4 linked regions of the Homo sapiens genome follow. The protein of the gene in region 1 interacts with the protein of each later gene in a pairwise test. Each region holds a gene or a part of one and is shown in the gene's direction. Other genes may lie near its edges. The genes, in order: PSTPIP1, ZNF175, TULP3 and UBE2W.

Region 1 (7,800 bases):
CCGCTGGCACTAAGGCCAACTCTTAGTCCCAGAGCCCCATGGAAGGTCCTTCCTGTCGAGCTGCCTCACGCCTAGGAGGATCCTACTACAGCAGACTCTAGAGGGTCTGTGGCAACTTGGCAGTGTCCAGAGGAGGCAGTCTGAGTTGTGGGGGTCACTGGAAACTGGTCTTGAGTCCAAGGATCAGGGCTGATTGTCCTGGAAAAAGGCAGACTTGCAGCCAGTCACCCCACAGGACTGCCCAAGGCTGAGGGGTCAGACACAGACTGGGGTGGGAGAGTTGTATGGCATTGCTTAGCATCCAAAGGTACTTCTCACCCATATGTAGGGCATGGCTGTCCCGAGACAGAGTGACTGCATGGAAGTGAAGTCCCCATCATGGGAGGTGTGTAAGCAGAGGCTGGCAGATGCTTGTCAGGGAGGCTGCAGGGCTGAAGTTGGATATAGGTTCCCTGGAGGGCAGGCAGGACGCAGACTGGCCTGGAGGCTGGGCTTGGGCCTGTGAGGATGGGGGCTGAGCCTCTCAGGGCCTTAGTGATGAGGGTGGTGCCCTGCACAGGGTGGCAGGGCAGCACACAGATCCGCTTCTTGCCTGGGGAGGAAGGATCGTTGTGAAGTGGCCAAAGAATTGAAAATGAAAAGTCACAACTGAGCCTTGAAGGGGAAGAAGCTGTACCTGAGGCTGGGGCCAGGCTAGGCCTGGGTGTCCTGGCCATACCACTTCCCATCTCTGTGCCTCAGTTTCCCTCTCACAGGATGGGACACATATGTCTACCTCCCAAGTGCTGGGAGCTCAGCCCAAGCCATGCGCCCCTCAGTCTCCACAGACAGGGCTCCAGCTCTGGTTAGCAGCTCTGCTGGCAGAAATGTAGCGTGGCTGCCCGTGCCACCTGCCCATCTGCCAGCTGGGCTTTCAGGATTCTAAATGTGGGGTTCTGAGCAGACAGGGGGTCCCCAGAAGCCAGCCCAGGCTTGAGGTGCCGGAGCAGGCACCCTCTCTGAGCTGGGACGTGCCCGCAGAGCCTGCAGAGAACCTGCCAGGAAGGAGGGACCCCGGCCCTGCTATTTTGGGCCCTCCTGTGGCCAGAGGAGCTGCACTGGCTGCAAAGGCTGTTTTGGACAGAGCATTCTTTCTCCAAGTGGCCAGGGCCCCGCAGGCAGAGCGCTGTGTTGTAGTGTGTGCCATGTGTGTCTGAGCCTGTGTGTGTATGTGCGTGTGCCACAGAGCAAGGACATGTGCTTACAGGATGGTGCACACGTGCCTACGCTCCCCTGCATATGCCTGTGAGCATGTGTCCTTGTCCAGCCCTGTGCACTTGGGTGTTTTGTGCTGTGTGTGTGTGAGTGCCTGTGCCTCGCTGGTCTCCCAGCTGGCACAGAACCCCTCCCCTGAGACCCCAGGCACAAACTGGCTCAGTTCTCCTCCTACCTCATAACCCAGTCGCTGTCCTGGCTGTTTTGCCTTCTCTATCAGAACAGGAAGCCTGGGAGGTGAGGGGAGGCTTTGGCCCCAGACCTCGGCACAGGGGCCCAGTGGCCACTGTGCCTGCATGTGGCCTGTGGTTGTGTGTGGGTGACTGTGGGAGTGTGTACTTGTGAGTGGCATCTGTGGGTGTGCACAGGAATGCCTGTGATCATGCGTGTGGGCAGCTAGGGATGGGGCCTGTGTGCCTCCGAGTTAATGTGGAACTCTGCATGTATGTGTGTGCCAGAGTGTACACACACGTGTGAGCGACTGTGATGCCTGCAGAGGCTCAGGGATGCAGGATGAACGACTGTGTGCGCACGTGTGTTGGGGTGGGAACTCCCCAGCTGGAGACGAAGCTCTGGCCAAGGTCTGCAGCAAGGACCTCACGGCACACCCATGCCCTGTGATTCTCTGTGGCCTTCCATTGTGAGGGTCACTGTGAAGCAGCAGGCTCTGGGGGAGGGAGGGCAGCCTGTCACCCTCTCTCCAGAGCCAGGAGAGGTGCTGCGCCTCATCCCAGGGACACTCCGTCCTCTTGGCCTAGGGGAGCCTCCCGAGGCCGCGGCCCTCGGCTCAGAACCTCGTGTCCCCTGCAGTATGAGGCCGTCATGGACCGGGTCCAGAAGAGCAAGCTGTCGCTCTACAAGAAGGCCATGGAGGTGAGCGCCAGGGCCTGGGGCCGCGGCCTTCCCTCGAGGAGCAGCGCAGGTCTCAGGGTGCGATCCTGGGCTGTGGCCCCGGGCAGGGCATTTGGAACAGGCTGACCTCAGCCTTGGTCCTCGGACCTCGGCCTTGGGCGCACCAGCCTGCGGGGCGCTTGGGCCCGTGCTGGGCGCTATGGCCCCGTGGGGATGGTCCCGGGCCCTTCCCTTGTGGGGCTCGTGAATGAAGGGCAGATGAAGTCAGCTGGGGACTCCAGGGGTGGAGGGAGGAGGGACCCCTGAGCTTGATCCTGCGAGACGCTGGACAGGAAGGGAGAGGGGCTCCTAAGAGGGCGCGGCGTGGCGAGGGGCGTGGCGAGGGGCGTGCCCTCGCCGAAGAGCACAGCCCAGGAGGCGGGGCCCGGGGCAGGCCGCGCTGTCCTCAGTGGGGAGGGCCTGAGAGCAGGACTACCAGCAGCCCCCACGCCTTCTCTATCTCCTTCCGGACCCCCAGATCCCTGTCCCTGGTGAGGATGCCCCCACTCCACCCGCAACCCTCGCCAGGGAAAAAGGGAGGCTGGGCTAAGGGAGCCTCACTCCCGGGGACCACAGAACAGGGCTGTGCAGCCCCCAAGTCACGCCCCTCCACACCCCCAGTCCAAGAAGACATACGAGCAGAAGTGCCGGGACGCGGACGACGCGGAGCAGGCCTTCGAGCGCATTAGCGCCAACGGCCACCAGAAGCAGGTGGAGAAGGTGCGCTGGGCTGCTGGGCCGTGTGGGTCGCCCAGGGCTGGGGGCAGTGGGGGAGGCAAGGAAGGGGTGCCGTAGACACCCCCAGGCAAGATCTGCATCTGGGGATGCTGCTTAGCCCTCTCTGACCCCCAATCTCCCCATCTGTGAAATGGGTTTCCTGGAGAGAACCTCAGGCCATGGACAGGCAGGTCAGCTGGATCCCCTTTGCCACCGTCAGGCGGCACTCAGGGACCCATTCCTCGGTGCAGGCCCACTGAGGCCCACAGGGTGATGAGAGCAGACGCCAACCCTCACACAACCTTGGAGAAGGGCTCAGTAGGCCCATGTCACAGAGAGGAAACTGAGGCTCACAGTAAGTGACTTGTCTAAGGTCTCAGAGCCAGGAAGCAGCAGAAAAGGGACCCCCAACTCAGGTGGTCTAGAGCCCATGCTCCTGATGCTGTGGCCCCTAGGCCAGAGTGGGGGTATCAGAGCTCCCAGAGCCCAGGAAACACATCACTCATTGCACAGACAGGAAGGCTGAGGCCCAGAGAGGGAAGTGGCCTGAGGGTGAGCTGGGGGCAGTCAGTCAGGGGCCAGAGCCCAAGTCCCAGCCAGGGGGCTCAGCAGTAGTTGCACCTCTCCTGTGGGTTGTGGTCTCACTCTTCACAGGCATCCTCCTGGGCTCGGTTCCTGTCTTCGTTCTCTTTCCATGGAGCTAGCCTGTGGTCCTCTGTGGGCGGAGGTTGCTTGTGGATGATGGCATCTGCCCATAGTTGGCTCCTGAATGTTCCCCCCAGGGTGGCCGGGGAAGCTTGACAGTCACTTCAGGTCTGCTGGGGTGGGCCCTGGCTCCTGGGGCAGGGGCTTAGCGCTGCTTCCCCTCTGTTTCCTCAGAGTCAGAACAAAGCCAGGCAGTGCAAGGACTCGGCCACCGAGGCAGGTATGTGGGCCTGGCTGCCCCGTCCGACCAGGGCGGAGGCCTGGGCGGTACTCCCCACACACACCTCCTCACCCTGGGGACACACACACTCCCCCTGGCTGCACAATCATGGGCGCGGCGCTCTCATTCCAGATATGTGCCGTCAAAGTAAACGCTGTGTTCCCCCATTCGCCAGCCCTTCTTGGCGCTTCATGTGTTCAGTCCTCACAGCTGCCCTCCGAGGTGGCTGCTGTTACTGTTCCCTTTCTTAACAGATGAGGAAACAGAGGCACTAAAAGGTCCAGTACTTGCCCCAGGTTACAGCTGCATTTGAACCCAGGCCATCGGGCTTCAGAGCCCAGGACTTGTGCACATAGCCTTCTCTGGGCCTCTGTCCTTCACTTGATGCCCGAATCCTACCAACACTCTTGTCCCTGCTGGTGCCCCACCCACCAGACACAGCACCCACCCTCCTCCCTTCCCCTGGGAAGGCCTCTCCCTTCTGCTCTGCCTTTACTGGGACTCAGCTACTCCCTCGGCTGGGGGACAGGTGACCTCCAGAGATCTGGGCACAGAAGTTGTGACCCAAGCCTGTGGGACTCCACCCCTCCTCCAGCGCCCTCTCAGCTGCCTTCTCTGAACCTCAGTTTCCCCTCTGGAAAGTGAGGTGGGGCGCCCAGAGATGCCCAGAGGCCAATACTCTGGACTTGCATATATGAGGCTCCACTCCAGCCCTCAGGCAGCTCAGAGCACAGTTGGGGAGCAGCAGCAGCACCAGCGTGGGTGGCCCTGACGGGCATTCAGATGAGGCCCCGCCATCTGCTAGGGCAGGTCCCATGGGGGAGGCGGGGCTCCCAGTGGGAGGAGGCATCCAGGATGGGACCTGCTGGAGTACAGGGGTGGAGGAGCTCGTGTCAGGGCCCTCCCTGAGGCTGCCTGCGCTTTCAGAGCGGGTATACAGGCAGAGCATTGCGCAGCTGGAGAAGGTCCGGGCTGAGTGGGAGCAGGAGCACCGGACCACCTGTGAGGTGAGTGGCCCACGTGGAGCCTCGTTTTCCCCAGCTGGGAAGTGTGAGACGCCCATCCCTACTCCAGCTGCTTAAAGGGGCCCAAGTGAGGCAGTTGGGGAAGGTACCTGTTACTCACTCGTTTATTCAGCCTCCTGCTCACAGGCCTGTGCTGGGCCCTGGCCCTGTTGCTTGTCGCCTGGCCTTGAGTCCTGGGCCCCTTCGTTGCAGGCAGGCATTCTTCCACCCTCTTTGTTGAAGCCAAAACTGGGACTTGGACTAAACCCACAGCCTCTCTGGGTGCTGCCGATGGACAGGGCCTGGGGAACAGGGCTCAGGACTCCCGTCCGAGGTCCCTCTCACTACCCTTCTGCCTCGGTGTGGTGCAGCCTGAAGGGAGGCTGGGGCAGGGACCCCCTGGGCATCTCCACCTCCCTCCCTGCAGCCTCAGGGCTGGCCCGGAGTCGGGATGGGGACCCCAGGGCACTCTCTCCTTTGGACTGGGCTTCCAGCAGAGAGGGCTGGCCTGGTCAGCTCCGGCTGAGCTGTGAATGGGGCCCAGCCTGGCCGGGCCCTGCAGCCGCCTCCTCACTGCTCACCTCCCTCCCACTGCCCCCAGGCCTTTCAGCTGCAAGAGTTTGACCGGCTGACCATTCTCCGCAACGCCCTGTGGGTGCACAGCAACCAGCTCTCCATGCAGTGTGTCAAGGATGATGAGGTGGGGGCTGAGGGCCTTGGTGTGGGGTAAGGTAGGGCAGCCTCTAGGCAGCAAAGCACCCAGGTCCATCTGAGCCGGTCAACAAGCACCTGGTCCTCTGTGATCCAAGCCTGGCCCCAGGGGTCTCAGGCCTCAGCAGCTCAGCCTTTGCCCCCAGAACCCCAAGACAGGAGCTCAGTACCACACAGGGCCATGGCTTCTCTGCCTGGAAGATGATGACTCTGTGGTTCCCCTGACTTCCTCCTTATGCCTCAGAGCCACAGAGCACCTGCCCCCTCTGCCGGGGATGGGAGGGGAGGTGGACACAGCTGTCAGAGGTTGGCAGAAGCTGGAGGACCGTGGCTGCTCTGCTCTAGGCCTGGTGCTTGCAGGAGCCGAGGCGCAGTCCTTCCTCTGCTCCCCACATCTCCAGGGTGTCCTGGTTCCCCTTACTGAGCCCAACCTGCTGGGTGGGTCCTCCCCAGCAGAGAGGGCCCCCAGCCAGGGTCCCTGAGCTCTGTGGATGGATGCAGCCCAGCACACGGCTCTCCCGGGCAGCCCTGGCCCCCTTGCCTGCTGTGTTTCCTGCCTGACGCTCCTGTCCGGGGCTGTGGGGGTTGATTTTCTTGTTGTTTTTGCCCAAGTGACTCGAGCCCCCTGCTGCCTCCTCGCCTCCTTGAGGTAGAAGGGCGAGCTCTGGACCCACTCTCCTAGCCCCAAGGCCTGGCTGTGCTGCATTCTCGCTGTGACCTTGGGCAAGTCACTCTCCTCTGAGTTTCCTCATCTATCCAATGGGAAAAGTGGGGTCTACCTTAGAGGACAGGTGTGAGTTAAGTCCCTTGCACAGGGCCTTGCACACAGAAGGTGTTCAGGAAACAGGAAGCTGTCAGCCAGGGCCGTGACCCCTCAGGATCAAAGACCCCGAGCCGCGCACAATGGCCTGTGAGGAGGCCGGTGGGTGGGGGCCGCTGGTCAGAGTTCAGGCCCACAGAGGGGCAGAGTGGGCATCGGGCTGCGGCCTCTGCTCTTTCCTGCCCCAGCTCTACGAGGAAGTGCGGCTGACGCTGGAAGGCTGCAGCATAGACGCCGACATCGACAGTTTCATCCAGGCCAAGAGCACGGGCACAGAGCCCCCCGGTGAGGTCCGGCTTGCGGACAGCGCAGCCTCTAGGTGCATTGAGCCCCTGGGAAGGCCCGGCCCTGAGCCTCAAGTGCCAGGACCGGGCTGGGGTAGCTCACAGCTCCCTTCAGGGCAGAGAAGCCCTAGCAGGGGTTGTGGGGAGTTGGGTCCCAGGCCTGCTGCCTCCTCTCAGGCAAAGCTAAGGGCATGATGGCACTCAGAGGAAGAGGTGGGGATGGGGATTGAGGTGAGGAGCTCCCACGGCCCCCACTCCCCGCCTGTTTGGTTCCACTGGATCACGGGTCCAGAATATTAGGTCTTGATGGTACCTACGGTGGGGTCTCTCATGGGAGCAAGACAGGCACCTCCTCAGGCACCAGGATGGGCCAGGGCCAGATTGGGAATGTAGGGCCCCAGCTGAGTCTGGCAGGGCCAGAATGGGGTGTTGGGGGCCGCCCTGGGGCTCACGGCTTGCTGTCTGCAGCTCCGGTGCCCTACCAGAACTATTACGATCGGGAGGTCACCCCGCTGACCAGCAGCCCTGGCATACAGCCGTCCTGCGGCATGATAAAGAGGTGAGGCCCCGACAGACGGAGGGAGGGCCTAAGGCTGGGCCAGGAAGTGGGTCGAGCCCCTCCTCTGCACCTGGCCCTTCCTCGTTCACTGAGCACCTACTATGTGTCTGTATCTGGTGCCCAGTTTAGGTGCTGGGCACTCTGTGGAGACAAGATAGGCTCAGTTCAGCCTATGGAACCCTCAGCCCAAGGGACCCAGACACTAGAATAATCACACCCCAATTATTCACTAGGGGAGGTGCTCCGAGCTCTGGGGAGGCCCCTATGCTGGCTTCCTTGTCCCTGGGGCCTCATGTGAGCCTGGTGCCCTGTCAGGCTGCAGTGGCAACGCTGTCTGGCTGGAGCAGGACTGGGGCATCTGGAGAATTCTCCAGGCTTTTCCAGGGCTCCTTCCCCGGCCTGGCTGCAGTCAAGTGCCAAGGTCCTAGTGCTGGGCCTCAATGTGTGACCTGGGCAAGTCATTCACACTCTCTAAGGCCAGGGCCCTGAGTGTTGGGGTCAGATTCAGAATCTAAGGACTCTCCTGGTTCAGGCCTTGAGTGACGAAGGTGACAGCCCATTGGGAGCACTATAGCCAGCTTAGGGAGCCCTCGTAGCCAGGCCTTTGAGGGAGGCCATGTGCCCTGTGAGCATCC
Region 2 (7,800 bases), on another chromosome or scaffold:
TCTACCATGTTCCCTTTTTAACCCTGTAGTTGAGCTTTTGTATTTACATGTCTTCCAAGTCTCTGAGTTGCTGCAAGAGTAGAAGCTTATGTAATTCTGTGTTGAGCACCAGAACCCAGCTCAACTACAGCCTCACATGTAGTTGCTTCGTCAACATCATGCTGGTTATTCCTAAATTAGCTAAAGGACTTAGAGGGAACCCATTTCTGGCCTCATTTTTGAAAAAAAAAAATGAATGAATGAATGTAGGTGTACAGTGGATGGAGGATATTTCTCTTATTTTTTTTTAAATCCCTAAAAATGTGAAATAGGTGTTTGGTGGGAAGCCTCTGTGATGGATCGTGGTGAAAATCATTAAAAGCATGTTCCTCCTATATGTGCCATCCCCACTCGCCAATGATGACCTAATTCACAGTGAGCTGGGGTACACTGTTACAGGCATCAGTGTCATTTGAGGACGTGACCGTGGACTTCAGCAGGGAGGAGTGGCAGCAACTGGACCCTGCCCAGAGATGCCTGTACCGGGATGTGATGCTGGAGCTCTATAGCCATCTCTTCGCAGTGGGTGAGCACAACTGACCTGGGAATCTTGGCTGGATCCTGTTGAGGAGATTTCCTTCCTCCTCATTGCAGAACGCAGTGGGATATCAAAGTATGTCATGACTCTTTTATCGGTTTGTCCTGGATTGTTTGTTTCTTTTGGGCACCTTCTAGTATTATTTTGTGCCCAGTGGAAAATGTTGACTTTTCTAATGAGCCAGTGTAAAGCTTCATTGAATGGCCTCTAAAACTGAAGAAGCTACACCCAAATCCAGTATCCTTTCTAATTAACAGGGTATCACATTCCCAACCCAGAGGTCATCTTCAGAATGCTAAAAGAAAAGGAGCCGCGTGTGGAGGAGGCTGAAGTCTCACATCAGAGGTGTCAAGGTGAGTAAGTTGTACCCGGGCAAATGTAGATATCTTTGCAGGGAACCATTACCAGTCTACCATACTTTTCTATTCCCTCCATTCCCCCAGTGATGGCCCGTAGATTGCCTCCTACTCCCAGTTTCCCATCAAACACTGTAAATGTGCTATAAATGTTAAATGTCCTATAGGGGCTGCCTTAAGAATTTTCCATTGGTGAATACTCAGGAATGGGATTGCCTGGTCCTGGAGATAAGTATACTTGACTAAATCAACCATATTGCTCTTCTGATGGGCTGCACCAGTTCACACTCCCCATGTGCAGTGCACAAGGATTTGCATTTGCACATCTTGCTTGCTAACACTTGGCATTAACAAAATTGGTGAATTTATAGCCCTACTGATAGGTGAAAGGGCTGTTTCATTTTTTTTTGTTTTTGGTTTTGGTTTTTTTGAGACAGAGTCTCACTCTGTCACCTAGGCTAGGGTGCAGTGGCACGATCTTGGCTTACTGCAACCTCTGCCTCCTGGGTTCAAGTGATTCTCCTGCCTCAGCCTCCCGAGTAGCTGGGACTACAGGCACCCGCCACCACACTCGGCTAATTTTTTGTATTTTTAGTAGAGACAGGGTTTCACCCTGTTAGCCAGGATGGTCTCGATCTCCTGACCTTGTGATCTGCCCACCTCGGCCTCCCAAAGTGCTGGAATTATAGGCGTGAGCCACCGCACCCAGCCTGTTTCATTGCTTAAGTGTTATTTTTCTAATAACTGAATGGTGAGAGCCTCTCATCTTATCTGTTATCTGATTGGCTTTTTCATTTGTTTGTTGCATTTTCTTACCGCTTATCTCTTTACGTCCATGGAGTTTTCTGCCTTTTTTTTCCAGTTTTTTTGCCCCTAATTTTATTTATTTTCTTTTCTTTGCTGGATCTGCTGTCTTCTTTTCCTCCCAGTTGTGGCACCTCTAGCTTGGGGCCCTGTTCTTCCATATGGGCATCTTTTCTTTTTTTTGAGGCAGAGTTTCACTCTTGTTGCCCAGGCTGGAGTGCAATGGCACGATCTTGGCTCACCGCAACCTCCGCCTCCCAGGTTTGAGTGATTCTCCTGCCTCAGCCTCCCAAGTAGCTGTGATTACAGGCATGCACCACCATGCCCGGCTAATTTTGTATTTCTAGTAGAGACGGGGTTTCTCCTTGTTGGTCAGGCTGGTCTCGAACTCCCGACCTCAGGTGTTCCGCCTGGCTTGGCCTCCCAAAGTGCTGAGATTACAGGCGTGAGCCACCGTGCCCGGCTATGGGCATCTTTTCCCACAGGAATTGACTTAAAGGACCCATCCATTCTGAACTCTTAGTCCTCATATTTTTATTCTAATGATTTATATATCAGTACCTCTAGTCCCTGTGCTTAAACTGTGTTCTGCTACCTTACTTAGCTCCACGGAGGACAGTTCCCATGAGATGACTCACTTCCTTAATTTTGGGAGATCAGAAATTGGAATCATCATCATCCAAATAAGGAATTCTCACCTGATAAATTTTGTGAGATTTTTCTGTTTCTGGGCTCAGAAACACAGTCCTCTAATTTAATTTATTACTTTGGAATTCTTACCAGTTTTTCTTGTTTTAATTAAGAAAAAAGTGACCCTTTTTCTTAATCCCAGTGGTATTACAACAAACTAGATCCCCATTTTCTCATATTTAGACAATTTTGTTCCCAGTGAGATATGTTGATTTCAGGTTTTTGAGTTTAGTCAAGATACTGACAGATTTTATGACCCCAAACATGGCTATTTTGTTTCTTTTTTCCTCAGTAGATATGATAAAAACAGGCAGTTCTATTTCCTACTGTGTAGGATTAACAAATTCTTTTCAGTGATATTGTCCTCATGGCCACATATTTCCAATTTAAAAATATACCTGAATAGTTTTCATCACTCATGCTCTGCTCCATTGTTTTTGTATGTTGTTTAATGTCTACTCCATAGAATGATTCACTTTGCATACACTCTGCTGATTACTTTGTACTTTCTTAATCTTCATTATATCAATGTTTAGCATGAGGAAACCATTGTATTTAAGATATAGGATTAGGATTTTTGTATTTAGGATACAGAAATTACTGATTTTCTGAAAATGGGCAGAAAAGAATATTTCACAGTATTTTAAAAGGATGCTTTAAATATTTGCTGAGATAAATTCAAAAGAACGGAGATTGTATTTGGATGGAGAGGACAATGGCATTAAATGTTAAAAGTATTAGCCTTTGTGCATCAATCATGTCTATTTCATGGAAGGCTACTCAAAAAGTAAGTGTATCAACATGGGAAGCATGGATAGCAAATGCTGGTGAAGTTCAGAAAAATGATGTCAGCCTAGAGGTGGAGTGACATTGGGAATTAATTTTAAGGGCATAGTACCTATAACTGGTTCAAGAAGCCATTTTGAATTGAAACAAAGAAGCAGATGAAGCAAGCTTAATGGGAATAGAGGACATGAGAGTGTGCTTGGATTTGAGAATAAATTGGACTTCTTTTTTGCAATCGACATTGTTAGGCTGTGTTGGAGAGTTGTGGAAAAGCTTTTCAGTACAGTTCTGATAGTTTACATTGAACATTTTGGGCAGTAATTTAAGTGTTACCAGGTTCAGCAAGATTTTTATGACCTGAATAAAGTGAGAAGTTAAAAATGTTTCAGATCGCTGCCTGGGGACACAGTGGAAGATTGCCAGAATAAATGACCACCTGTATATGGGTAAAATTGCTATTTAAGAGTGAAAAATGAAATAGAAAACAACCTATTTTAATAAGTGGGAAAAGGATGTGAATAGACATGTCTTCAAAGATGATATACAAGTGGCCAATAATAGGAAAAAATGCTCAACTTCACTAATTATGTGGGAAATGCAAATCAAAACCACTGGGTGATATCCCTTTACATCCATTAGAATGGCTACAATTAAAAAAACAGAATAACAAGTGTTGGCAAGGATATAGAGAAACTGGAATCCTTGTGTATTACTAGTGGGAATGTAAAATGGTGTAGTCCTATGGAAAACAGGATGATGATTTCTCAAAAATTAAACATAAAATTACCATATGATCCAGCAACTCCACTTCTGGGTAGATACCCACAAGAATTGAAAGCAAGGACCCAAACAGCTGTTTGTACACTCTTGTTCATAGCAGCACTATTCACAATATCCAAAAAGTGGAATTGTCCATTGACCAATGAATTGGTAAACAAAATGTGGTCTATACATACAATGAAATATTATTCAGCCTTAAAAAGGAAGAGGAATTATGAAACATGTTGCAGTGCGGATGAATCTTATCATGATGCTAAGTGAATAAGCCAGACACAAAAAATCCAAATGTATCATTCTACCTGTATGAGGTACTTTAAGTAGTCAATTCATAGAGACAGAATAAGATTGTGGCTGCCAGAGAATGAGGGATGGGGGAAAAGGGAAATTGTTTAATGGATACAGCATTTCAGTTTTGCAAGATGTAAAAGTTTTGGAGATCCATTGCACAACAGGGTGAATACAGGTAGCACTACTGAACTGTACAATACAAAATGGGCAAGATGGTAAATGTAATATTATGCACTTTTGCTACAATAAGAAAAAGTTAACAATAAAGATTAAAAGTGTCCTTTTTTTAAAAAAAGAATGAAAGATGATTGAGTTTTTTTGATAGGACAAGAGTCTGGGATACAGTTTAAGTGACTGAAAGCGAAAAGAAACTACATGTGATGTTCATACTCAGTATTAAAATCTGGTAGAAAAAGTAATAGTAAAATTTAGTAACTATTATTTTTATTGAGAACCTGCTGTGTTTTGTGCAGTATACTAGTAAAGTGCACAGGATGATCAGGGACTCTTATTCTTGGCAAAAAAACAAAACAAAACAAAAAACTAAACTAAAAAAGGCATATTTGATAGCATAAAGCCAAAAGTTCTAACAAAGAACAATTAATTTCAATGGAACAAGGGTGAAACAAATTCTGGGGAACAGCTTGCTTGTCCAGTCTTTTAGAATATATTTCTGGGGATATGGGTATATTCCTAAGTTCAAGAAAAAAAAATTGTAGCTTCATGGAGAGTTGAGGCATAGGAGAGTTGAGGCATAGTCATTCTTTCACTGGTTGGCCATGTCAAGATAGGTGAAGCTTTAATAGTTTTCAGAAGGATATACAGGGCTGATGGACTTGGCATTGTTTCTAACAAGTAAGATAAAGCAGGCAGATTGGTGAGGATTCATCTCTGAAAGTTAATGAAGACCTACACACTGAGCCCCCTCCTTCAAGCCTTGGCTGCCCACACATGTTGCCCTGCAACACTTGTCTGTTTTATCCTACTCATCCTACTAGATCTGGGTGTCTAGACCACTTGCATAAGTGTCCTCAGGTTGTTGAAATCTAATCCCCACAGATTAGCAAAGTGATCTTGGCCAATTACATAACCATTATGTGCTTCCTTTTCTTTGTAAAACAGGAACACCCATCATCGCTACCTCCTGAGGTTATTATGCAGATTAAATGAGTATGTGTGCACCATGTAGGCCACTGCCTGGCACATGCTAAGTGCTATGTAGATAAATGCTCATCATGTAATAAGGGCTCTGTGTTTCTGCTCATTGTCAGCATCATTAGCAGCATTATTACATGACTCAGCAATTTCCTTGTGTTCTGTGTCAATCAGCTTCATGCAGTTTCTCCTCTTTCTTGTTCATTGTGTCTATTTCATCTTCTCTTTCTCCTTTTAGAAAGGGAGTTTGGGCTTGAAATCCCACAAAAGGAGATTTCTAAGAAAGCTTCATTTCAAAAGGATATGGTAGGTGAGTTCACAAGAGATGGTTCATGGTGTTCCATTTTAGAAGAACTGAGGCTGGATGCTGACCGCACAAAGAAAGATGAGCAAAATCAAATTCAACCCATGAGTCACAGTGCTTTCTTCAACAAGAAAACATTGAACACAGAAAGCAATTGTGAATATAAGGACCCTGGGAAAATGATTCGCACGAGGCCCCACCTTGCTTCTTCACAGAAACAACCTCAGAAATGTTGCTTATTTACAGAAAGTTTGAAGCTGAACCTAGAAGTGAACGGTCAGAATGAAAGCAATGACACAGAACAGCTTGATGACGTTGTTGGGTCTGGTCAGCTATTCAGCCATAGCTCTTCTGATGCCTGCAGCAAGAATATTCATACAGGAGAGACATTTTGCAAAGGTAACCAGTGTAGAAAAGTCTGTGGCCATAAACAGTCACTCAAGCAACATCAAATTCATACTCAGAAGAAACCAGATGGATGTTCTGAATGTGGGGGGAGCTTCACCCAGAAGTCACACCTCTTTGCCCAACAGAGAATTCATAGTGTAGGAAACCTCCATGAATGTGGCAAATGTGGAAAAGCCTTCATGCCACAACTAAAACTCAGTGTATATCTGACAGATCATACAGGTGATATACCCTGTATATGCAAGGAATGTGGGAAGGTCTTTATTCAGAGATCAGAATTGCTTACGCACCAGAAAACACACACTAGAAAGAAGCCCTATAAATGCCATGACTGTGGAAAAGCCTTTTTCCAGATGTTATCTCTCTTCAGACATCAGAGAACTCACAGTAGAGAAAAACTCTATGAATGCAGTGAATGTGGCAAAGGCTTCTCCCAAAACTCAACCCTCATTATACATCAGAAAATTCATACTGGTGAGAGACAGTATGCATGCAGTGAATGTGGGAAAGCCTTTACCCAGAAGTCAACACTCAGCTTGCACCAGAGAATCCACTCAGGGCAGAAGTCCTATGTGTGTATCGAATGCGGGCAGGCCTTCATCCAGAAGGCACACCTGATTGTCCATCAAAGAAGCCACACAGGAGAAAAACCTTATCAGTGCCACAACTGTGGGAAATCCTTCATTTCCAAGTCACAGCTTGATATACATCATCGAATTCATACAGGGGAGAAACCTTATGAATGCAGTGACTGTGGAAAAACCTTCACCCAAAAGTCACACCTGAATATACACCAGAAAATTCATACTGGAGAAAGACACCATGTATGCAGTGAATGCGGGAAAGCCTTCAACCAGAAGTCAATACTCAGCATGCATCAGAGAATTCACACCGGAGAGAAGCCTTACAAATGCAGTGAATGTGGGAAAGCCTTCACTTCTAAGTCTCAATTCAAAGAGCATCAGCGAATTCACACGGGTGAGAAACCCTATGTGTGCACTGAATGTGGGAAGGCCTTCAACGGCAGGTCAAATTTCCATAAACATCAAATAACTCACACTAGAGAGAGGCCTTTTGTCTGTTACAAATGTGGGAAGGCTTTTGTCCAGAAATCAGAGTTGATTACCCATCAAAGAACTCACATGGGAGAGAAACCCTATGAATGCCTTGACTGTGGGAAATCGTTCAGTAAGAAACCACAACTCAAGGTGCATCAGCGAATTCACACGGGAGAAAGACCTTATGTGTGTTCTGAATGTGGAAAGGCCTTCAACAACAGGTCAAACTTCAATAAACACCAAACAACTCATACCAGAGACAAATCTTACAAATGCAGTTATTCTGTGAAAGGCTTTACCAAGCAATGAATTCCTAGTGCATCAGCATATTCATAAATGAAATATACTCCGAGTTTCTTGAAGAAGAGAAAATCTTCTCAGAATCAGGTCTAATTATATGTTATTGAATTCATGCTTCAGAAAAACTCTAGGGATGCACTGCATGTGTGAACACATGATAAAAAAGTCATGCTTTATTTTAGTGAGGGCAATTACAGAGAAAAGAGTAAGCAGAAATGTCCTTCTGAGTACTGGCCTCATTAAGGATTATAAATTTTCTCCCCGGGAAGAAACCCTGACTAACGCATTGAGAAA
Region 3 (7,800 bases), on another chromosome or scaffold:
CTGTTGAGTATATCTTGCTTTTATTTTTACCAGTTTCACTAGGATACTCTTTCTTGTTTTTGAGGAGAAGTCTTTCTCTGTTGCCCAGGTTGGAGTGTAGTGGCGCAATCTTGGCTCACTGCAACCTCTGCCTCCCAGATTCACGTGATTTTTGTGCCTCAGCCTCCAGAGTAGCTGGGATTAGAGGAGTGCACCACCACGCCTGGCTAATTTTTGTATTTTTCGTAGAGATGGAGTTTCACCATGTTGGCTAGGCTGGTCTTGAACTCCTGGCCTCAAGTGATCCAGCCACCTTGGTCTCCCAAAGTGCTGGGATTACAGGTGTGAGCCACCATACCTGGCAAGATACTCGTTTTCAGGGTATGTGGGCACCTTAGCAAGCTGCAGAATGGATTTTCTTTTCTTTTCTTTTTTTTGAGACAAGAGTGTAGCCCTGTTGCCCAGGCTGGAGTGTAGTGGCATGATCTTGGCTCACTGCAACCTCTGCCTCTCGGGTTCAAGCGATTCTTATGCCTCAGCCTCTCGAGTAGCTAGGACTACAGGCAGACGCCACCATGCCTGGCTAATTTTTTGTATTTTTAGTAGAGACAGGGTTTTGCCATGTTTGTCAGGCTGGTTTCAAACTCCTGGCCTCAAGTGATCCACCCATCTCGGCCTCCCAAAATGCTGGGATTACAGGCGTGAGCCACTGCGCCCAGCCCAGAATGGATTTTCTGATTCTTGCTGTGATATTTCTGACATGGATGCATATTAGGTAGAGTACATTTATTTCGTCTGATGAAAATGGATTAAAGTACAACATAGTTCCTTTGAGCCAAGTTGCTCATCTATTTGTATGATGAGAGGTCATCACTGCACTGAATGATATTTTAAGAAGTCTAGTTTAAAAATTTTAGTCTTACCTTCCTATGATCTTGCTTTGTGGGCGGGGAGATTAAGTTAGTTTTTTTATTTTGTTTTTTTTTTTTGAAACAGAGTCTCGTTCTGTCGCCAGGCTGGAGTGCAGTGGTGCAATCTCAGCTCAGGCTCACTGCAACCTCCACCTCCCAGGTTCAAGCGATTCTCCTCCCTCAGCCTTCTGAGTAGCTGGGACTACAGGCGCATGCCTCCACGCCCAGCTAATTTTTTTAATTTTTAGTAGAGATGGGATTTCACCATGTTGGCCAGGATGGTTTCAATCCTTTGACCTCGTGATCTGCCCGCCTCAGCCTCCCAAAGTGCTGCGATTACAGGCGTGAGCCACCGTGCCCGGCCGAGATTTTTAAACAAACTGATAGACTGCAGACAACTAGCCTGATGCTGGTTGTACTCTGTGGTTGGTCAGTCTGTTGGAAAACTGTCATAGTGTAACCTTAGCCCATCACCTCTAGGGTGACTCCTTGTCTAGGAAAATTGAGAATTAGTTAAACTATCATTAATTTAAATGAAGTTTTATTTATTTTGAGATGGTTGCTCTGTTGCCCAGGCTGGAGTGCAATGGCGCGATCTTGGCTCACTGCAACCTTTGCCTCCCGGGTTCAAGCAATTCTCCTGCCTCAGCCTCCCAAGTAGCTGGATTTACAGGCTTGTGCCACCACATCCAGCTAATTTTTGCATTTTTAGTAGAGATGGGGTTTCCGGCATGTTGGCCTCGAATTCCTGACCTCAAGAGATCGGCCCACCTCAGCCTCCCAAAGTGCTGGGATTACAGGCATGAGCCACTGCGCCGGTCAGAGCTTTATTATTTTATTGGATAAAGTTATTTCATGGAAATTTCCACCTATCTGATCTCCTTTAATTTCTTACTGTTTATTTTGACATCACCATTCAATATTTTAGCAGGATAGTAAGACATACCACTAAATTCTTGGGAAGATAGATTCTTTTACAGTTCAATTCCCAAGATAATTAGGAAATTTAAAAGTGATTAAGTTTTAGTTTATATGACACTTAAAATCACGAAGGCAGTGTGTTTTAATTGCATTTAGGGCATCTAACCATCAGCTCTGGCTTTCTTCCTGGCTCCCTGACTTACTCTATCTTGGTAATGAGTCCTTCATTGATGTAGCCTCGTTTAAAGCACTTTTAGGTTTTCAGGGAAGTAAAATATAGATGGAATAGGAATTGACATTGTTACATTCAAACACAAGTAGCACTTCTCTCCTCCCCCATCCAAACTGCATGACGGTTTTCACCAAGATGGCAGCTTGCACATATATGTTTAATGGTATTTTTCTTATTTGTAAACTTGGACAGTAGTAAGATCATTCAATACTGAGGTATAGTAGCTGTGGCCCTGATTACAGTTTGAGTCTACAGTTGTTTTTTTCTTAAGTCATTGGTCTAAATGAGTTTGATTTGTCTGTAAGTAGATAGAGAGAGGCTTCCCCAGATACCTTGGCAGGAACACTGTGGTCAGGGGTCTAGTCTCCCCTTAACAAGTGAGAGCTTAGTTTGTCAGTGAACTGGATATAACCAGGTCCTTTGGCACAAATTCACGCTAGTTAAACCCACACCAGTAAGTTTTAAAACCAGAACCCCAAGTTATTAATTTATAAAGGGAGCTCTACTCTTTCAGTGTGTATTCATGTCTACTGTTCATAATACTCTTTTCCTGGGAATACGATACCTAAGAAGTTAAACTTCAAATTAGAAGGCTTATTGGTGAGCAAGGAATCAGAGGGAATGAGGTCAGGAGTTTGAGACCAGCCTGGTCAACATGGTGAAACTCCATCTCTACTAAAAGTTTAAAAATCAGCTGGGCATGGTGGGGTGCACCTGTAATCCCCGCTACTCGGGAGGCTGAGGCAGGAAAATTGCATGAACCCGTGAGGCAGAGGTTGCAGTGAGCCGAGATCGCACCACTGCACTCCAGCCTGGGCAACACAGCGAGACTCTGTCTCAAAAAAAAAAAAAGATACTTCTCTTTCTTGGACAAACCTGATAACCCTATCAAATTCTAGCTCTTTGGCCTCCCTTTTCTAGACCACAGCAGAAAACTCCTTTTCTATAGAAAATATTTTCCTTGGCCAGGTACGGTGGCTCATGCCTGTAATCCCAGCACTTTAGGAGGCCAAGGCGGGCGGATCATGAGGTCAGGAGATCGAGACCATCCTGGCCAACACGGTGAAACCTCATCTTTACTAAAAATACAAAAAATTAGCCGGGCGCGGTGCCGGACGCCTGTAGTCCCAGCTCCTCGGGAGGCTGAGGCAGGAGAATGGCGTGAACCCGGGAGGCGGAGCTTGCAGTGAGCCGAGATCGCGCCACTGCACTCCAGCCTGTGTGACAGTGCAAGACTCTGTCTCAAAAAAAAAAGAAAATATTTTCCTTGCATGTGAACCCCATCTCTACTAAAAATACAAAAAAAATTAGCTGGGTGTGGTGGCAGGTGCCTGTTATCCTAGCTACTCCGGAGGCTGAGTCAGGAGAATTGCTTGAACCCAGGAGGCAGAGATTGCAAGTGAGTTGAGGTTGCACCATTGCACTCCAGCCTGGGCAGCAAGAGTGAAACTCCGTCTCAAAAAATAGCTACAGCATTCATTTTTGTTTTTGTTTTTGTTTTGAGACAGTCTCGCTCTGTCGCCCAGGCTGGAGTGTAGTGGTCCAATCTCGGCTCACGGCAACCTCTGCCTCCCAGGTTCAAGTGATTCTCCTGCCTCAGCCTCCCAAGTAGCCGGGATTACAGGCGCTTGCCACCACGCCTGGCTAATTTTATTTTTTAATAGAGACGGGGTTTCACCATGTTGGCCCGGCTGGTCTCAAACTCCTGACCTCAGGTAATCCGCCCACCTCGACCTCCCAAACTGCTGGGATTACAGGCGTGAGCCACCGCGCCCAGCCTACAGTATGTGATTTTGTTTCATCGATCATTTCACAGACTATGTATGAGATGAAATAGCTGTGGCCACATAGATAAGATATGGCAGTTTCTTATGATTTCAGTACTTCATATTTACCACCTTTTCAGGCAAGTTACTTTTTTTTTTGAAATGGAGTTTTGCTGTTGTTGCACAGGCTGGAGTGCAGGGGCATAATCTCAGCTCGCCGCAACCTCCGCCTCCCAGGCTCAAGCGATTCTCCCGCCTCAGCCTCCGAGTAGCTGGGATTACAGGCATGCGCCGCCACATCCGGCTAATTTTTGTGTTTTTAGTAGAGACGGGGTTTCTCCATGTTGGTCAGGCTGGCTTTGAACTCCCGACCTCAGGTGATCCGTCCGCCTCAGCCTCCCAAAGTGCTGGGATTACAGGCATGAGCCACTGTGCCCGGCCAGCAAGTTACTTTTTATCCATTATACAAGACCTCTTGGTTGCTAGAAGAATTTTTTTTTTTTTTGAGACAGAGTCTCGAGTCTTGCTCTGTCACCCAGGCTGGAGTGTAGTGGCATGATCTCAGCTCACCACAACCTCTACCTCCTGGGTTCAAGTGATTCTCCTGCCTCAGCCTCCTGAGTAGCTGGGATTACAGGCATGCGCCATGACGCAGGCCAATTTTTGTATTTTTCATAGAGACGGGGTTTCACCATGTTGGCCAGGGTGGTCTCAAACTCCTGACCTCAAGTGATCCACCTGACTCTGCCTCCCAAAGTGTTGGGATTACAGGCGTGAGCCACTGCGCCCGGCTGCTAGAAGAATCTCAGTGGCCAATTCTGTTTGGTGGAAGTCATTATAGCCTCCTGTGTATTTAGTGTTCCTGGGTTAATGTCCTTCTATTCATGGTAATTCATGAAATCTCAAAATAATCTCCAAACAACTTAGTCCTTGCTCTAACACCTATTCATTCTTGATGGTATATTCTGTATTGGCACGTTATCTTAACTCCCCAATCTTTTCCCTCTATATGCAAGCTATTGAATTAATCAGTGTGCTCTCATCAGCCCAGTTCAGGAAAAACACACTTCCTTTTTTGATAGTCTCACCCCTTGGAGTGACTCTTCTTCCTGGAGGCACTTTTCTAAAACAGTATCGATGGAAAAAAGTAAACAGATGGCTTCTTTTGCCTGAAAAACAGTAGTAAGTGGGTTATAATATATTTGTTTTTTAATCATGTCTTTATTTTTTAGCATGGGGCTTAACATTTTTCCTACTCTGAGTTATCCCAGATCAATAATAATTTCTATATATTATAAACCCTTATTTGCCAAAAGGTACTAGTACTATGTGCTAGTACCTTCCTTTCCATTTCATTGGTTTTTTTTTCTCATAGTCTGTCATGCTTGTTTCCTGACTTTTCTTGCTACCATAGTCTTTATCTTGCTTTTATTCATAGAGTTGACTGCTTTCTATTTGATATGTTCCAACTGCCATTTTTTTCTTCTCACCCTTGATCCAAATTTGATTTCTAATTATATAAGATAAACAAGAATGCCAAACTTACTGCCCTTTGACTAATTAGAACATGGAAATAATTTGAGTTTTAGAGAATAATAAAGTTTTTTTCTTCCATTTACAAAAGTAAGAAAACTTAAAAAAAAAAAAAGACTAGAAAAGAGAAAACAATCATGCCATAGTCTGCCACCTGAAGAAACCACCCTTGCTGTGTTCCTCCATCTGTCCTCCGTGCATGTGTGTTTGTATGTTTTGAGCTTGTGGTCACATTTGATAATGCTATGATGATTCCCATACATCTTTAGTAGACTTGGTTACAAATGCACTGTGTGGGACAGGTGCAGTGGCTCACGCCTGTAATCCCAACACTTTGGGAGGCCAAGGCAAGCAGACTGCTTGAGCTCAGGAGTTTGAGACCAGCCTGGGCAATGTCGGGAAACCCTGTCTCTACAAAAATACAAAAAATAGCTGGGCATGGTAGCACACACCTGTAGTCCCAGCTCTTCAGGAGGCTGAGGCAGAAGGATTGGGCGTGCCTTGGAGGTCAAGGCTGCAGTGAGCTGTGATGGTGCCACTGCACTCAGCCTGGGCAACTGAGTGAGACTCTGTCTCAAAAAAAAGAAAAAAAAAAGCATCATCTGATTTTAAATAGATCTTTATAGGTGTTAGGTGTTCAAAAGTATTTGTTAAATGAAATGATTGAATCCTTACTCCTCTCTGTGCCTCAGTTTTCCCATTTCTTAAATGGGGAAAAAATAATTTACAAGATGTTTTGTGAGGATCAGTGAAAAACAAACTGGGCATGTTGGAAATGGTTAGGTCATGTCAAAACTCTCCTTGCTGGCTGTCATATCGCTTTTTTCCCAGAGGCTACTACTTGAGAAGAGGCAAAGGAAAAAGCGCCTTGAGCCATTTATGGTGCAGCCCAATCCAGAAGCCAGGCTACGTCGGGCAAAGCCAAGGGCCAGTGATGAGCAGACTCCCTTGGTGAACTGTCATACTCCCCACAGCAATGTCATCTTACATGGTGTGTATTTAGGCAGCATCACTTCCTAGTGGGGTACAATTTTCACAAACCTAGAAGGCACGAGGATTGTCAGACGGACCAAAGGGACAATATTATTAGCACCATTACTAGGTACCTTCATAAATCTTTATAATCACATTTGGGGTCTTTGAGGAGAATAAAAGCAATGATATAATCAGTGGAAGATGCCTTAAGGTTTGCGTCCATTTTAGAACTGTTGTTTTCTTTTTTTTGAGACGGAGTTTTGCTTTTGTCGCCCAGGCTGGAGTGCAATGGCGCGATCTTGGCTCACTGCCAACCTCCTCCTCCCAGGTTCAAGTGATTCTCCTGCCTCAACTTCCCGAGTAGCTGGGTTTACAGGCGCCTGCCACCATGCCCGGCTAATTTTTTTATACTTTTAGTAGAGACGGGGTTTTACTATGTTGGCCAGGCTTGTCTCGAACTCCTGACCCAGGTGATCCACCCGCCTTGGCCTCCCAAAGTGCTGGGATTACAGGCTTGAGCCACCATGCCCGGCAAGAACTGTTGTTTTCTAGATGCCAGATGAATGAGTTTAGAATGACCTATTTGAGGAGCTCTTGATTGTTAAATCGTGGCAGAGGTGAATCATGAAGCCGGGAATAGGTAGAGAGCGTCCATTCTTCCAACAGATAGTTGAAAGGATCATCTGAGATGGGGAGGGGCGGAGGAAGAATAAGATTGTAAGTGCCTCTAAATCAAGCCACTGGAGCTATTGGCTTGTACAGGATCTGTACTATGGAGGACCTACTTTGTTTTCTTGGTCTCATTCTTAAGTTTCTGAAGTACATATTACTTCAGTTACTGAAGTACAAGTACATATGACTTTAGTAACAGAGCATGTTAATAAAATGAACACCAGGCTGGGCGTGGTGGCTTATACCTGTGATCCCAGCACTTTGGGAGGCCAGAAAGGCAGATCACTTAAGGCCAGGTGTTTGAGACTAGCCTGGGCAACATAACAAGACTCCATCTCTACAAAAAAATTAACAATTAGCCAGGTGTAGTAGCACACACCTGTAGTCCCAGCTACTCGGGGGACTGAAGTGGGAGGATCGTTTGAGCCTAGGAAGTCGAGGCTACAGTGAGCTGTGATTACACCACTGCTCTCCAGCCTGGGTGACAGAGTGAGATCCTGTCTCAGAAAAAAAGAACACCAGTTCTGACCTTCTCTCTTAACAAATGTTCTTATGGATGTTAAGAAAGGAGGGCAGATAAAATGATTTGGTAGTTCTTAATTCTGATCACATATGCCAAATCTACCCAACTAGTGAATAATACTTTGCTCCTTTTTTAAAATTCATTTTATTTTGGCCCTTAGGTATTGATGGTCCAGCTGCTGTCCTGAAACCAGACGAAGTTCATGCTCCATCAGTAAGCTCCTCTGTTGTGGAAGAAGATGCTGAAAACACCGTGGATACTGCTTCCAAGCCAGGACTTCAGGAGCGT
Region 4 (7,800 bases), on another chromosome or scaffold:
CGGTGGTTCACACCTGTAATCCCAGCACTTTGGGACGCCGAGGCGGGCAGATCACCCGAGTTCGGGAGTTCGAGACCAGCCTGAAAAACATGGAGAAACACCCTCTCTACAAAAATACAAAAAATTAGCCGGGTGTGGTGGCTCATGCCTGTAATCCCAGCTACTTGGGAGGCTGAGGCAGGAGAATCACTTGAACCCAGGAGGCGGAGGTTGCGGTGAGCCGAGATCACGCCATTGCACTCCAGCCTGGGCAACAAGAGCAAAACTCTGTACCAAAAAAAAAAGAAAGTACCACGCACCATGTTGAAAGTTATGCTGCCTTTGACCTCGTGTCAGTATCTGCATGTCATGCAGATATTACAAGGATTGATGAGATACTTGCTTAGCTCTTTATTTTTAAAAGCTGTGCTTGTTTGTATAGGTTACATGTTAATTTATGTTATGTGTCCTAAAATTACCATATAAACAGAATGAAAGACCACCGTTTTTCCTGGGAATATCACTGTGCCTAGTGGATGTGGGTGGAAAAATAAGAAAGGAATTTCGAAGATTAAGAAGGACCTAATATATAAAGAGATAGTTTTTTGTTTTGTATGCAGCTTTTGCATTGCATTTAATTTACCATGTATTGACTGAGTCAGGAATGTGCTAGGTTTTTTACGTATGTAGGGTCATTTATCTTTCCAACAACACTATGAGGTGATTATCTTCTGTTTTATTATTGAGGTAGTTAAAACTGGAGAGATAACATAACTTGTTCACACAATGAGTTAAGATTAACTATAACTGCGACTTCAGTATAACTTCAGTTATAACTGTCTAATTTCACTATAAAATATTGTCTCTTGGGTCTGTGGTCGTATCTTTTATTACCATGTATGGTACTCAGCGTGCATTCTTAAAATGAATAGCCATGCTCTTAAGAGTCTGTATACTGTAGCTGATTTCTTTTAGAGAATAGGTACATTTATTATTTTACATAATCCAAGGTTCATAGTATGCGTGGTGATGACTAGAATCCCAACACTGTATTTTCTATCTTCCTTTTGTTTTCTTGTATTTTAAATACAAGAAAGTTTAATAACTGAAAAGTTCAAGAGAATTGCCCAGGTGTACAAGAATTATAAGTGACAGAGCTATAATTAGGAACACATTGTTAATGACTTCAATTCACTTTTGCTTCTAATGCTGCCCTGTTATCTTTGCTGTCATTATCCCTTATTCTTCCCATCTTAAAGAAAATAACAAGAATAGTATATAAACTGTAAATAACACATTTATGTTTATGATTGTTATATATGAAAACAAAGGCTTGCATAGATGGCATAGAAATGGGCTTTATTAAACAATTGAAACATAGTGAGAGATAAAGGAAAGTCACCACAAAGCCTTGCTTAATCATCAGAGTAAGTGGACTGATGTCAATTTAGCTCCCCTTGCCCTGTTAATCTTCTCTAGGATGTTGATGAAAAAAATAAGTCTGACAGCTACGGTTCTCTGTGGTCATTGTCTATACGTATTTCTCCATGGCTTCCACCAGTAATAATCAGAGGCAGTTGCTTTGTTTGATGTTATGTATAGAATACGTAATATCAGCATTGTAGAAATGGTACTTTGAAAAAATAAGGTAGTATAAATCAATTAGGAGGAGCACAGGCTTTGGTGTCAGTGCACCTTAGTTTGAGGTCTGTTTGTTTGTTTATTTTGAGACAGTCTTGCCCTGTAGCCCAGGCTGGAGTGCAGTGGCATGATCTTGGCTCACTGCAACCTCTGCCTCCCGGGTTCAAGCGATTCTCCTGCCTCAGCCTCCTGAGTAGCTGGGATTACAGGTGCACACCACCATGCCCGGCTAATTTTTGTATTTTTAGTAGAGACCGGTTTCACCATGTTGGTCAGGCTGGTCTTAAACTCCTGACCTCGTGATCTGCCTGTCTTGGCCTCCCAAAGTTCTGGGATTACAGGTGTGAGCCACCACACCCGGCCTTGGGTTTTATTTAGTTTGCTTTTTTAGACCTGGCTCTGTCTTTTGCTAGCTGTCTGACCTTGATCTGGTTATTTCACCGCTGAGTGTCAGAGAAGGGGATAGGTCATGAGAATTAACAGTAAGAGAGTTATTGGGAGGCTGGCATGTGCTGTTACACATAACCAACTCTTGTCCTAGTGCTTAGTGTATAGGAAGTACTTGGTGTCCTCTTTTCTCCTCCTTACCCCAGTCTCTATTATCTTAAGTTTTTAATTTGCCTTTTCTATTCTAGGTGGATTGTAGACATGGAAGGTGCACCAGGTACCTTATATGAAGGGGAAAAATTTCAACTTCTATTTAAATTTAGTAGTCGATATCCTTTTGACTCTCCTCAGGTAATTGCCTTGCTTTAAATTTTTTTTTTTGTATTTTTAGATAGCTAAATGCCAGAGATGTTTGACTCAGTAAAAACATATAAATCAGTTATACGTATGTAGATGGATTTGTTATTTCATTATCTTATTTGTCATATAATCAAGATATGAACATTACACTTTATTGGGATTAGGGCTTTACTGCATTTTGCTTCTAAAATTGTTTCATTTGTTGCTTATCCATAAATGCTAACAGAAAAGGGAATAGAAATCTAACCAGGCCTCTAGGCCAGGGGTCCCCAACCCCCATGCTGTGGACTAGTACTGGTCCATGGCCTGTTAGGAGTCGGGCCACACAGGAGGTGAGCAGCATTACTGCCTGAGCTCTGCCTCCTGTCAGATCAGCGATGGCATTAGATTCTCATAGGAGTACGAGCCTTATTGTGAACTGCACATGTGAGGGATCTAGATAGCACGCTCTTTATGAGAATCTAATGCCTGATGATCTGAGATGGAACAGTTCCATCCCAAAACCATCATCCAATCCCCAACCCCATCCATGGAAAAATTGTCTTCCATCACACCGGTCCCTTGTGTCAAAAAGATTGGGGACCACTGCTCTAGGCCATCGGAGAAGTTGACATTTTGGAATAACTGGAGGCACTTCTCCTAGGTCAGATGGTAGAATCACATGGTGAAGAGAAAAGTTCTCTGTTGGAAGGAGTACTATGATTTTGCATTGACATGCTGTCCTTGCAGCCTTTTAGTACAGGAAGGGCAGAGTACATCATCAGATGTTAAATATCTAAACATCAGCACAAAGTCTGATTATTATAATTTGATGCCCAGTGAGTTTAGTTAATAGCTTAATACTTAGACAAGGGATAATGGTGGTAGAGAAATGTTTTTTGAGAGCTATTTAACTATAGTAAATGATTAATCAGGTTAGAGAAAGGAAGACTCTAGGATGACTTCCAGGTTTCTGGCTTGGTAAGATAAGTAAATGAGTTACTATAATTACTTATTCTTCAGAGAATTATAACAAAGCACTTCATTTTTAAAATTTGAGGCTTGTGAGATCCGTTGGCTAAAATGGTAAGACATGATGCCAGCTCTCTCTAGTATTGCTAGCAAATGAGCTATTCTGGAAAATACAACCAAATACCTGAAATATTTCCCAGATACTGAAAATTTTGCTTGTTGGGTGCTGAAATGTACTATTTGGAGGAAAATCATATTTCATTGTCACTTTAAACAATATACCAAACACAGCTTAATCTTTTCTTAGTTATGTAAGAGAAGAGATAAAGTCAGTTATTGTATCATGCTATAAGTAAAGAGATAATTGTTTTAAAGCATAGATTTAAATGGATACTGACTCCTTAAGTTCTAAAATTTTCATATGAGCAGAAAACTACCAAGACTTTTAGGACTTATTTTTATCATTTTCATAAAAGTTAAAGTGAAAGGGTATGTGCTATTGTGACCTCTAGATGTCTACAATAAGCATTTGTAGACTATAATAAAAAGAACAAACATCTTCTCTCCAGAAGATTGTCATCACTTTTGTTGCTTTCTGGCTGGCCAGCATCATTTCTGACTGTAAATGTGTGGAGACAACAGGATCTCAGTCTGTTTTCATCATCAGCCTATTTGTCTACCTTCAACTAAGTTCAATGATGGTATGGGAAGGAAGAATATTTCACACCAATTCAAAAGCTTTTGACTAGGGAGATATTGGGGGAAGGCTTACTCTGGGAGCTTACAGATTTTTCACCAGAGGAAAATAATATTTCTGTAAGCATGAAACCAAGTCAAAAATGTGTTCTCTAAACTCTTTCCTTAATATTTAATTCTAAATCAAATATCAAACTTAAACATTATGTTGAATTTCTTCTTTAATATTTCTGTAAGTTACAGCATTTGTAATAAATTCTCCCTATTGTCCTATTTCAAATTCATTTTATCCTCCTTCCCTGATTTTATTTGTCTGTTCTTCTAACATTGGTGTTATCCAGGTTCTTTATTCAGCACTGTGTTACTCTTCTCACTCTTCTTTCACCTTCAGTCACCTTAAGCAGCTAACTCCCAGATCTACAGCTCTGGGAACACTTCTTTTTTTAAGGCTTAATTTCACACCCTTGTTGAAATACTTGAGTACCTCCAGACATCTCAAATTTAACACAACTAAACTTGATCTTTCCAATAACAAAGAACATTTTGTTTTTCTTTATCCTGGGTTACTGTCCACCTGTCTATTTTTGTGCTCAGTTTTTCTCTTTTCCACACTCCTCCCTCCTACATTTGAAAGGTAGCCCATTCTTTTCTTAATGTCAGTGCTGTAGTCTGGTTTTTTGTTTGTTTGTTTTTGTTTTGTTTTTTTTGAGACAGCGTCTCGCTTTGTCACCCAGGTTGGAGTGCAGTGGTGCAATCTTGGCTCACTGCAACTGCTGCCACCTGGGCTCAAGTGATCCTACCATATCAGCCTCCGAAGCAGCTGGGACTACAGGTGCATGCCACCACACCCAGCTAATTTTTTTTTTTTTTTTTTTTTTTTTTTTTTTTGCAGTTGCAAGATTTAATAGAGTGAAAACAGAGCTCCCATACAAAGGGAGGGGACCCAAAGGGGGTTGCTGTTGCCAGCTCGAATGTCTGGGTTTATTTCCTGATCGTTGTCCCTCCCTCTGTGCTCTCAGGCAACAGATGATTGGCTATTTCTTTACCTCCTGTTTTTGCCTAATTAGCATTTTAGTGAGCTCTCTTTACTATCTGATTGGTCAGGTGTGAGCTAAGTTGCAAGCCCTGTGTTTAAAGGTGGAAGCGGTCACCTTCCCAGCTAGGCTTAGGGATTCTTTGTCGGCCTAGGAAATCCAGCTAGTCCTGTCTCTCAGTGCCCCCTCTCAACAGGAAAACCCAAGTGCTGTTGGGGAGGTTGGCCGACAACCACTCTAACTGCTTCCCGCTGAATTGGGACGTAGTAGGGGTTGTGCAGTTGAGATTTCCTCAGGAGGGGTGCCTTCAATGTCATTAACATTGGAGCATGGGCTAGCAGGCCGGTCCAGGGGTCTGTGGTAGATTTTAGTCATGGACTGTCTGGGGCTCCATTTGAAGAACGATTTGTAGTTTTACAGCTTCAATTCTGGAAGAGACAAACTTAACAAGGAGGTTAAAGATAGAGGGATTGAAATGTATGGCCTGCAGTGCAGGGGATTATTTCTTTGGCACACTTTACAGGCCTTGACTATCTGCTTGATAGTTTTGAAAAGGTCTGGTCCAGTAAATAATGATTTGGCCATCTGATGGCACACCCAGCTAATTTTTATATTTTTTGTAGAGATGGGGTCTTGCCATGTTGCCCAGACTAGTCTCGAGCTCCTGGGCTCAAGCGATCAGCCCACCTCCTTGGCCTCCCAAAGTGCTGGGATTACATGTGTGAGCCACCATGCCTGGCCTAGTCCAGGTTTTTATCTTTTATTTGAACCATTACAGTAGCCTTTAGTTCTTTGAATTCCTACATCCTTTCACGGTGCCAATAGATTTGTTTGAAGGCACAGTTATCTCACTGGTTACATACCACACACATGGACATGCACACACATCCCCCCCCCCCCACACACACACTCCCACACCCCACTCCACCCCCCCACCACACACACACTCTGTCTCACTCCACCATCCCCAGAATTCCTCACCCCCTGACAGTAAAACCTCTTAATGTTTATTTCCTATGGAATCAAGTTTTTAGCCTGGCATTCAAGTCCCTGTATAGTCACATCCAAACTTAACTTTTTCTGCACCTGCATGCATTCTGTATGGTAATATTTCTATATAGTACTTCATAATTTAACTTCCATTCTGATTTTGTTTTCTAACATCTTTTAATGAAGTGGTTAGGGGAGGTAGATTCATCCTCATTTTATATGTGAAGAAATTGAAACTTGTAGAAGTGAAGTGCCTTGTTCACGTTTTAATACCTAGTTTATAGGACAGTCAAGACCCAAACCCAAGTCTTTCCTTTCCTCCTTTGCCATACTGCCAATTAGATGCGAGTACCGGTGTGGAAAAAATGCCTATTTATCTATGTAGTAATTTTCTCTCTGAAAGTGAAAGATTATATGTGGAATGAATGGTACCTTTGAAAGCTCTAGGTCAGTTATTCTCACTCTTTTTGAAATATAAGGATTCCTTTTTTAATTTACTTTTTGGTGGGGTGGGGGTGCGGAGACAGAGTCTCCCTTTGTCATCTACCTATGCTGTGGTGTAATCATAGCTCACTGCAGCCTCCAACTCCTGGGCTCAAGTGATCCTTCCACCTCAGCCTCCAGAGTAGCAGGGACTACAGCCATCTGCCGCCATGCCTGGCTTGGTTTTTTTATTTTGTTTTTTTGTTTGTTTGTTTGTTTGTTTGTTTGTTTTTTATTTTTTTGAGACAGAGTCTCGCTCTGTTGCCCAGGCTGGAGTGCAGTGGTGTGATCTCTGCTCACTGCAACCTCTGCCTCCTGGGCTTAAACCATTCTCCCACCTCAGCCTCTCTGAGTAGCTGCAACTACAGGTATGCACCACCATGCCTGGCTTATTTTTTTTTGTATTTTTGGTAGAAACAAGGTTTCACCATGTTGGTCCAGCTGGTCTTGAACTCCTGTCCTAAAGTGATCTGCTCGCCTCGGCCTGTCAAAGTACTGGGATCATAGGCACGCCCAGTGAGGATTCCTTTTTAATATCAGTTAATTCTGTAGTCCCTCACATGGCATAGAGGTTGTATATTCTAATATCCATTGATTGGGAAAATGGCAGAACTACTCTGAGGCCAGTAATACGTTAAAATTTTTTAAAATGTATTTATACATAATCTATATAGTTTTAACATAATTATAATGGGTCAAACATCAATGCTTGATGTGCTTATAGACTTCAAGATTTTTCCAATAACTGAAACTTTGCAGAGATCCACTGCCCTGGGAAAGTGGCTAGAACCAGTCCTCTAGGGCAGTAAAATTCCCCCAAAATTTTATTTGATGAAACTCTGTAGCATTAGCACTTGTTACCTAAATTAGTCTTTCATCTTTCTGGCTGGGCATGGTACTCATGCCTGTAATCCAAGCACTTTGAGAGGCCAAGGCAGCCCAGGAGTTTTGGGACCAGCCTGGGCAACGTAGGGCAACCCCATCTCTAATAAAAAAAAGAAAGAAAAGTCTTTCATCTTTCTATGCAATGAACAGTACTGAGTTTATCACTAGTTACAAGAGTAGAATTTGGAAAATATTTCTAGAATAGATGAATCTCATTGTGAAATTACTGCTTTTGTACCTGTAAATGAGATCAGTAAGACTGTCACACACCATTATGGTTTGTTGTGTTTTTCTTCCTGCCAGTTATATTTTATGTCTCATGTTGTGTCCTGCCTTATAATGAAAAAGTTACCTCTCTAAAATATGTTTGGCTCAGTCATTTGCCTTAAAAGAA

The links.
Region 2: the proteins of PSTPIP1 (region 1) and ZNF175 interact in binary tests that used the Homo sapiens proteins (3 or more experiments, as listed by UniProt).
Region 3: the proteins of PSTPIP1 (region 1) and TULP3 interact in binary tests that used the Homo sapiens proteins (3 or more experiments, as listed by UniProt).
Region 4: the proteins of PSTPIP1 (region 1) and UBE2W interact in binary tests that used the Homo sapiens proteins (3 or more experiments, as listed by UniProt).

The regions. Positions count from the first base shown.
Region 1 is NC_000015.10:77,025,788-77,033,587, forward strand, and holds part of PSTPIP1 (proline-serine-threonine phosphatase-interacting protein 1), read left to right. Parts: intron 1-328; coding exon of another isoform or gene 329-385; intron 386-2,012; exon of another isoform or gene 2,013-2,064; coding exon 2,065-2,127; intron 2,128-2,766; coding exon 2,767-2,865; intron 2,866-3,741; coding exon 3,742-3,787; intron 3,788-4,714; coding exon 4,715-4,794; intron 4,795-5,392; coding exon 5,393-5,491; intron 5,492-6,510; coding exon 6,511-6,607; coding exon of another isoform or gene 6,608-6,641; intron 6,642-7,074; coding exon 7,075-7,165; intron 7,166-7,800. UniProt on the Homo sapiens protein: Involved in regulation of the actin cytoskeleton. May regulate WAS actin-bundling activity. Bridges the interaction between ABL1 and PTPN18 leading to ABL1 dephosphorylation.
Region 2 is NC_000019.10:51,580,953-51,588,752, forward strand, and holds part of ZNF175 (zinc finger protein 175), read left to right. Parts: intron 1-438; coding exon 439-565; intron 566-834; coding exon 835-930; intron 931-5,674; coding exon 5,675-7,515; 3' UTR 7,516-7,800.
Region 3 is NC_000012.12:2,914,590-2,922,389, forward strand, and holds part of TULP3 (tubby-related protein 3), read left to right. Parts: intron 1-6,173; coding exon 6,174-6,333; intron 6,334-7,672; coding exon 7,673-7,800. UniProt on the Homo sapiens protein: Negative regulator of the Shh signaling transduction pathway: recruited to primary cilia via association with the IFT complex A (IFT-A) and is required for recruitment of G protein-coupled receptor GPR161 to cilia, a promoter of PKA-dependent basal repression machinery in Shh signaling.
Region 4 is NC_000008.11:73,819,705-73,827,504, reverse strand, and holds part of UBE2W (ubiquitin-conjugating enzyme E2 W), read left to right. Parts: intron 1-2,255; coding exon 2,256-2,358; intron 2,359-7,800. UniProt on the Homo sapiens protein: Accepts ubiquitin from the E1 complex and catalyzes its covalent attachment to other proteins.